Regions from separate parts of the Homo sapiens genome. Here all the other regions are linked to region 2. Evidence: fine-mapped expression QTL. A gene starts in region 2. Each other region holds a variant in brackets. All regions are shown on one strand. Distances are between the middles of the regions.

Region 1 (2,752 bases), 76 kb after region 2:
CCAGGCTGGAGTGCAGTGGCACTATCTCGGCTCACTGCAACCTCTGCCTCCTGGATTCCAGCAGTTCTCCTGCCTCAACCTCCCGAGTAGCTGGGATTACAGGCACACACCGCCATGCCCAGCTAATTTTTTGTATTTTAGTAGAGACGGGGTTTCACCATGTTGCCCAGGCTGGTCTCCAACTCCTGAGCTCAGGCAATCCGCCTGCCTCGGCCTCCCAAAGTGCTGGGATTACAGGCATGAGCCACTGCGCCCAGCCGAGAGCTTTCCACTTTGAAACAATTTTGGTTTGTGAAAAGCTGGCCCGGTTCTGCCTTATGGAGTTATGCAGAAATATAGCTGGGTGAGGTGGCTCATGCCTGTAATCCCAACACTTTGGGAGGCTGAGATGGGTGGATCACTTGAGCCCAGGAGTGTGAGACCTGCCTGGGCAACATAGAGGACCCTGTCTCTAAAAAAAATACAAAAATTAGCGTGGCATTGTGGCATGCACCTATGGTTCTAGCTACTTGGGAGGCTGAGGTGGGAGGATCGCTGGAACCCAGGATCATGCCACTGCACTCCAGCCCGGACAACATGGCAAGGCCCCGTCTCTATATAAATAGGAAAAAAGGGCCAGGCGCAGTGGCTCACGCCTGTAATCCCAGTACTTTGGGAGGCCAAGGCGGGCAGATCATGAGGTCAGGGGATCGAGACCATCCTGGCTAACATGGTGAAACCCTGTCTCTACTGAAAATACAAAAAATTAGCCAGACGTGGTGGCGGGCGTCTGTAGTCCCAGCTACTTGGTAGGCTGAGGCAGGAGAACGGTGTAAACCAGGGAGGCGGAGCTTGCAGTGAGCGGAGATCACGCCACCGCACTCCAGCCTGGGTGACAGAGCGAGGCTCTGTCTCAAAGGAAAAAGGGCCAGGCACGGTGGCTCATGCCTATAATCCCAGCACTTTGGGAGGCCAAGGCAGGCGGATCACCTGAGGTCAGGAGTTTGAGACCAGCCTGGCCAACGTGGTGAAACCCCGTCTCTACTAAAAATACAAAATTTAGCTGGGCACAGTGGTGGACGCCTGTAATCCCAGCTACTCGGGAGGCTGAGGCAGGGAGAATTGCTTGAACCCGGGAAGTGGAGGTTGCAGTGAGCCGAGATCGCACCATTGCACTCCAACCTGGGCGACAGAGCAAGACTCTGTCTTGGGAAAAAAAA[A/T]ATATATATAAAAAAGAGTGCAGGCAGAGTGTGACTCCCTGGGTTCTAAATCCTGGCTCTGCCTCTGACTTAATGAATGACCTTAGGCAAGTCACTTAACCTCTGAGCTTTGATGTCATTATCTGTAAAATAAGACTTACATAGAGAGCCCTAAAAGTGTCTAGGACAGAATTAATACCCACTTAATTAGTATTTCCCTTCCCAGGAAGTCAGCATTACTGGTATGATAACCAAAGAAAAGTTTTCTTCATGATGTCCATCACAGATCAAGGCCTTTGCTGTACTTCCAGCATGTCAGAGATAACCTTCTTTTTTTTTTTTTTTTGAGACGGAGCTTTGCTCTTTTTGCCTAGGCTGGAGTGCAATGGTGCAATCTCTCCTCACTGCAACCTCTGCCTCCTGAGTTCAAGCGATTCTCCTGCCTCAGCCTCCTGAGTAGCTGGGATTACAGGTGCGAGCCACCATGCCTGGCTAATTTTTTGTATTTTTAGTAGAGAAGGGGTTTCACCATGTTGGCCAGGCTAGTCTCAAACTCCTGACCTCAGGTGATCCCCTGCCTTGGCCTCCCAAAGTGCTGGGAGTACAGGTGTGAGCCACTGTGCCCGGCCACATATAACCTTTCTTCTGGTGGACCTACGAAGCCATGAGATAGATTGTGATTCATTTATTCCAACCTCGGGAACACTGATGACTTGTCAGCCTCTATGGCAGGAACTGGAGAGTCAGGGGTAGAACAGTTCTAGCACAGTGCCTAAGAAAGTGGGGAGCACAGGCTGTCCAGAGGCAGGAGATCCTGGGGGGACATGGTGGCTTAGCTGAATGTTCATCAGGACAGTAAACAAACTGGGGTGGACCTTCTAGGTAGAAAGTCCAGGTGCCTGAGACTTGGGTGCTTTTGAGGTATGGCAATGAGAATGATATGACTTAGGACTGGAGCTTAGAAAGTGAGGAGTGTGTGCCTGTGGTTCCAGCTATTCAGTGGGAGGCTGAGATGGGAGGATCACTTGAGCCTGGGAGGCAGAGGTCACAGTGAGCCAAGATCGTGCCACTGCACTAACCTGGGTAACAGAGTGAGACCCTGTCTCAAAAATAAATAAATAAATAAATAAATAAATAAACGTACAGAAAATAAATTTAAAACCAGGAGCCAAAGGAGTCATCTCTAATGGACTCAGGGTTGTTCATCAAACAAAATGAGAAGCAGAACTGTATTCCAGGCATCATGCTAAATGCTAAGGACACAGAGGTGACTGAGATGCAGGCCACTCTCAGGATAAAATGAGATTGTGTAAGTAGCTACAGCCAGCTCAAAGTTTCTTATTGCCATCCTGAATCATGAAAGACATATATTTGAGCTGAAAAAGCCCTTGATGGCATCACATGGAAACTCCAAAGCCCAAGTTTCATTATGGAGGAGGTGCCTGGGTTGAAGGCCCTGTAGCAGCCCTTCACCCTTTCCTATGGGATCTTCCTGGGGCAGAGGTGCAGCTGCTTTTGGCAAATCGGACCACAAGGATACCTCCTTGGAAGACAAGGCTCTCACTTGTACATGA
Region 2 (2,752 bases):
CTGTATCAAAACATTACATGCCTCTCCATAATTCTCTGCAACTATTAAGTGTCCATAACAATTAAAAGAAATGTAGACTTAGCCTATCCAACAACAAGAATAACAAAAGGGTAAACCAGGAGAATAAGGAAGGTTGTTTCTGGAGGAAGGAACGGCAGGATCAAAAGCACAAAGGCGAATACGATAATCAAGAAGAAAATTCAGGGCCGGGCGCGGTGGCTCACGCCTGTAATCCCAGCACTTTGGGAGGCCGAGGCGGGCGGATCACGAGGTCAGGAGATCGAGACCATCCCGGCTAAAACGGTGAAACCCCGTCTCTACTAAAAATACAAAAAATTAGCCGGGCGTAGTGGCGGGCGCCTGTAGTCCCAGCTACTTGGGAGGCTGAGGCAGGAGAATGGCGTGAACCCGGGAGGCGGAGCTTGCAGTGAGCCGAGATCCCGCCACTGCACTCCAGCCTGGGCGACGGAGCGAGACTCCGTCTCAAAAAAAAAAAAAAAAAAAAAAAAAAAAAGAAAATTCAGGACCCCAGAGTGGCGTAGGGACCCAAGCCAGTGTGCAGAATCTCTGGGCCTGGGAGATCTGAGGATGGGGTAGAGCAGGGCAAGTAGGTGGCAAATCAGGCCCTGAGCACTAGCCTCTCTGTAGGATGCCACGCCGCTGGCCGCCGCAAAGTGGCGGTGTGCGCCCATGTCTCTGCCGGACCCAGGCCACCGGCCGCAGAAACGCTGCCACCTGGACGTCCCCCACTTCGCGCACGCACTCTGGTGCTTGCATATAAATAGTAAGTGCACACCCGACTCGGCCACCAGAACCTGCACACGGATGCCCACCCACGGGTTGACGTCGCGGACAACTACACCGCGGGTGCCGGGCTGGGGTGCCGGCCTGTCCAAGCCTCGAACCCAGAACCAGTTGCTGGGGACTCCAGGCTCGGCTCCGCCTCACGCTCCCCAGGTCCGTCAGCTCCGAGACTGTGGCTCTCCGAGGGGGCAGCACCTGGCCTGGCACAGGGAGGTTAATCCTATGACGTCACTGCCAACCTCCCCACCCCCATGCCCATCCCTTCGGGTTCGCGCTGCCCCGAGCGGCTCAGCTCCCGGGGTTCTGCCTTCGCTCCCGGCCCTGCGTCCTGTCCCGGCTCTGGTTCCCTGCTGAGGCCTGCGGCGCGACGGGGACGCGGAAGGGAAGGAGGAGGGGGTCCTGCGTCAGCCTCGAGTCAGGGCCCCCGGGAAGGAGAGGGTGTCTGTGCCAGAGGATGGCCCTCGTCCCCGGTGCCGGCTCCCACCCCCAGCCCCGCAGCATGGGGGCTCTAGTCACCCTTGCGGCCAAGATCAGAGGCTCGCCCGGACTAAGGGGAGACGGACTCACGAGCAGGGGCGAGCGCTGAGGCTCCGGGCTTCCAGGCCACCGCCTGGCCCCGCCCTCGCACCGCCCCGGCCCCGCCCCCTTCCCTTCCCGCCCCGCCCCGCCCCACCTCCTGCTGCCTCCTCCGACTCCCTCCCGCGCCGCTAAGTTTCTTCGCTCGCCGCCTCGCTCAGAGCCGGGGCCGGGCCAGAGCGGCGCCCCGCTGCCCTGTCCCCGCGTGCAGACCCCGGGCCCGGCCCCGGCCCCCCGCCAAGCCATGCTGTGCGGCCGCTGGAGGCGTTGCCGCCGCCCGCCCGAGGAGCCCCCGGTGGCCGCCCAGGTCGCAGCCCAAGTCGCGGCGCCGGTCGCTCTCCCGTCCCCGCCGACTCCCTCCGATGGCGGCACCAAGAGGCCCGGGCTGCGGGCGCTGAAGAAGATGGGTCAGTGACGGGCAAGGGGCGGTGGGGTGGGCGCGGACCGTTCCCAGAGGCCCAGTCTGGGGCGCTCCAGGGAGCAGTTCGTGGATTCCCCAGGCTGCACGGGGCTGGGAGGCTATGGCTAGGGGCGGAGGGCCAGCTCCCTCCAGCTGGGGGTCGCACCTGGGGTCATCCGAGGGTCCCGGGGCGAGCCGGGCGCCCAGGGTGTTCTTTGCTTCCCACCAGGGGGCGCTCGCGGGGCGTCTGAAGCGCGAATTCGGGCACGGGGCGCTGGTGGGGTCTCCAAGGAGAATGGAGCGGGAGAGGGAGGCTTGGGGTGTCCCTCGTCCGGCTCCCCAGCAGTATCTAGGTTCTGCCAGGGTGTCTCGGGGTCTTGGCAGCCCTTAGGAAGGATGCGAGTTTGCGGTCGGCCTCCGCAGAAGAGGCTGGCCTCCACAGCAGCCCTCCAAGCCGCGGCCCCACAGAGGCGGCCACAGCCACACTGCTCTGGCAGGACTGGTCTAACAGCCTACGTCCGACAGCCAAGGCTCTCACCTCAGATTTGGGGAAGTCAGTCGTGGAGAAGGAATGTAACTGTGGCTCATTGGAACATCACAGAGGCAGCTGGCACTGGGTGGGTTACACAGGTGGTGTCTTGCAATCTTCCTCGACTTCCTAGGTGGGAGGTGAATCCTCATTTCACAAGTGAGGAAACTGACTCAGAGACGGCAAGGAATTTGCCTATGACCACACAGCCAACAAAGGGCAAAGTGTGACTGGCACCCCGGTGGTGCCCCACCACATGGGCCCTGGTACCCTCTCAGAGTCTGGGAAAAGTGGGACCCGCAGGGCAGTGGAGGGCTTGAATGAGAGGGTGTGTGCGAGAATGTTGTCTGACGTGGAAAGGACCGCGCCACTGAAGTGCTGCGTTGGACCTGCCATTGGTAGAATAGTCAGTGATGGAGAGGCTAGGTGTGGAACTCCGGAAC
Region 3 (2,752 bases), 21 kb after region 2:
TTTGTGCCTCGAATTTCCTGCCCTGAAGCAGGCCCGGGCTGGGCCAGACCCCCAGGGTGCACAGAGGACCTGAGGCCTGGCTGTCCTCCCTACAGGGTACCGCCACATACACCTGCTTTCCAAGGACGGGGCCTCACTGTCACCAGCCACGCTCTTCATCCAAATCCGCATCCAGCGCTCCTGAGGGCCCACCTCACTCGCCTTGGGGTTCTGCGAGTGCCAGTCCACATCCCCTGCAGAGCCCTCTCCTCCTCTGGAGTCAGGTGGTGGGAGTACCAGCCCCCCAGCCCACCCACTTGGCCCACTCAGCCCATTCACCAGGCGCTGGTCTCACCTGGGTGCTGAGGGCTGCCTGGGCCCCTCCTGAAGAACAGAAAGGTGTTCATGTGACTTCAGTGAGCTCCAACCCTGGGGCCCTGAGATGGCCCCAGCTCCTCTTGTCCTCAGCCCACCCCTCATTGTGACTTATGAGGAGCAAGCCTGTTGCTGCCAGGAGACTTGGGGAGCAGGACACTTGTGGGCCCTCAGTTCCCCTCTGTCCTCCCGTGGGCCATCCCAGCCTCCTTCCCCCAGAGGAGCGCAGTCACTCCACTTGGCCCCGACCCCGAGCTTAGCCCCTAAGCCCTCCTTTACCCCAGGCCTTCCTGGACTCCTCCCTCCAGCTCCGGAACCTGAGCTCCCCTTCCCTTCTCAAAGCAAGAAGGGAGCGCTGAGGCATGAAGCCCTGGGGAAACTGGCAGTAGGTTTTGGTTTTTATTTTTTGAGACAGGGTCTCGCTCCGTCGCCCAGGCTGGAGTGCAATGTTGCAATCATGGCTCACTGCAGCTTTGAACTCCCAGGCTCAAGCGATCCTCCCATCTCAGCCTCCTGAGTAGCTGGGACTACAGGCACAGGCCACCAAACCTGGCTAATGTTTAAATTTTATGTAGAGATGGCGGGGGGGGCGGGGGTCTCCCTATGTTGCCCAGGCTGGTCTCGAGCTCCTGACCTCAAGTGATCCTCCTGCCCCAGCATTCCAAAGTGCTGGGATTACAGGTGTGAGCCACTGCCTGGCCTGGCCGTAGGTTTGTAACTGTTTCATAGAAGAGCCCTGGAGAAGACAGTAGAATGAGCCTATCTAGTTTAAAAAATAAAGAAGCACGTTGATTTCACCACCGCCACTCCCTGAGCACCTCTATGCTGCCACCCCCACAGGCCCATGAGGAGGGACAGGGCTGGATGAGTTTCTTGGGCCTCTCCCCTCAACAGGGCATGGACTTGGCTAAGACAGCCAGGG[G/C]GTGGCAGCAGGAGATGCCACAGCTCTAAATAGCCCGATCCCTGCTCCTGGCTTAAAGCTGCTGCGAGTATCACAAGACTGTCTGAGGATGCCAATTCAGCAGGTCAGCGCCTCCCCACAACACACACACACACACACACACACACACACTCACACATACACAGAGGGGCCTTGAATGAGGAGGAGACAGGAGTCTGAGGGACCCTCAGACTGCCACTCTCCAGGCTTGGCTGGGCTCAAGGCCCCTGTCTGCTCAGTAGGGCAAATCCCAAGGACACGGGCTTCCCTTCCTCCAGCCAGCCAGCCTTTTACACAAAGGCTGGAAACGCTGCTTGGGCCGCCTCTATAGAAATGCCAGGAGAGCGCACTGGACACTAGGCGACAGAATCTGGAGAAAATCCTGCACCCGCCCCTGCCAGCAGGGTGAAATGTGGAGGCCTGGTGTTTTAGGTTCTGCCAGCCAACAGTGCCGGCACTGGACAAGGGCAGAACTTGACATTAGTCCCCAGAGGGTGGCCTGGAACTGGGCTGGGATAGGCCTTGAACTGGCCCCAAGCCCCACAGAAACCAAAACACAGGGCTGGGGCAGACTCCACCTTCTAGCAACTCCAAGAACTAATGCAGAAAGTGGCAGTGTCCCCCGCTCCTTCATGCTGGGAGTGGCGTTTGGCTCTGGTTAATTTGTGTGTCTGAAAGAGGATAATCAGAATCAAAAGGGCCCAGAAGGAATGGGCCGAGCCAGGCGGGCCGGGCCAGGCAGCCCGGGCATCTGGCACTCAGGGCTGTCAGAGGGTCAGGCTGCCAAACTGCAGCCTCAGGATGGGAGGCACAGTGAGGCTAAGTCCAGTTTTAGCAAATGAAGAGCCATTAGCATTGCCCAGCCCCTGCAGAGCCAGGTCTGGCCAGGGGCTGGCTGGGGGGTCTGGGTCAGGTGAGCACCAGACCCAGGGCTGAGTGCCCATCCTGCTTGGCTTCTCTGGTTTCGTATCTGGTACCAAGAGGAAGGGGTGAAGGCTAGGATGAGGGCCCAATACTGAGAAGGCTGCCTTGAAAGGGCAAGAGTCTTTTTTTTTTTTCTTTTGAGACAAAGTCTTGCTCGTCCCCCAGGATGGAGTGCGATGGCGTGATCTCGGCTCACTGCAACCTCTGCCTCCCGGGTTCAAGCGATTCTCTTGCCTCAGCCTCCGGAGTAGCTGGGATTACAGGCGCCCGCCACCATACCCAGCTAATTTTTGTATTTTTAGTAGAGACGGGGTTTCACCATGTTGGCCAGGCTGGTCTCGAACTCCTGACCTCAGGTGATCCACCCGCCTTGACCTCCCAAAGTGCTGGGATTACAGGCGTGAGCCACTGCACCCAGCCAAAAGGGCAAGAGTCTTTAAGGAAGTGAACTGGGAAGCAGAAGCAAGGGAGAAATCACAGGGTTTTTTTTTTGTTTGTTTTTTTGAGATGGAGTCTCGCTCTGTCGCCTAGGCT

Alleles and levels. Alleles are on the strand shown, and positions count from the first base shown. SD is a standard deviation of normalised expression in the study named. Not every link is listed here.
For the expression in skeletal muscle of the gene that starts at base 1,520 in region 2, allele C in region 3 goes with a higher level than allele G (moderate effect, 0.44 SD a copy in GTEx).

Evidence for each region. PIP is the estimated chance that this variant, and not a neighbour inherited with it, causes the effect.
Region 1: its variant is fine-mapped to the expression of PLCD3 in nasal epithelium (TOPMed, PIP 0.99).
Region 3: its variant is fine-mapped to the expression of PLCD3 in skeletal muscle (GTEx, PIP above 0.99). The same link has a PIP of 0.9 or more in esophagus muscle, gastroesophageal junction, sigmoid colon, skin, sun-exposed skin and thyroid.

What each region holds. Positions count from the first base shown.
Region 1 is chr17:45,054,928-45,057,679 of GRCh38, reverse strand. It overlaps a transcript of DCAKD not described here. Among named protein-coding and RNA genes, the nearest start is that of DCAKD, 4.7 kb to the right of the region's middle. The variant A/T (reference allele first, on the strand shown) is at 1,200.
Region 2 is chr17:45,131,283-45,134,034 of GRCh38, reverse strand. PLCD3 (phospholipase C delta 3) reads left to right here and starts at 1,520. Exons shown (of 15, transcript NM_133373.5): 1 at 1,520-1,787. The coding sequence starts at 1,625. It also overlaps a transcript of ACBD4 not described here. RefSeq lists an enhancer at 727-796 and silencers at 1,267-1,486, 1,587-1,716.
Region 3 is chr17:45,110,048-45,112,799 of GRCh38, reverse strand. It overlaps PLCD3 (phospholipase C delta 3), which reads left to right. Exons shown (of 15, transcript NM_133373.5): 15 at 96-2,752. The coding sequence ends at 184. Among named protein-coding and RNA genes, the nearest start is that of MIR6784, 3.0 kb to the left of the region's middle. RefSeq lists enhancers at 1-4, 5-870. The variant G/C (reference allele first, on the strand shown) is at 1,277.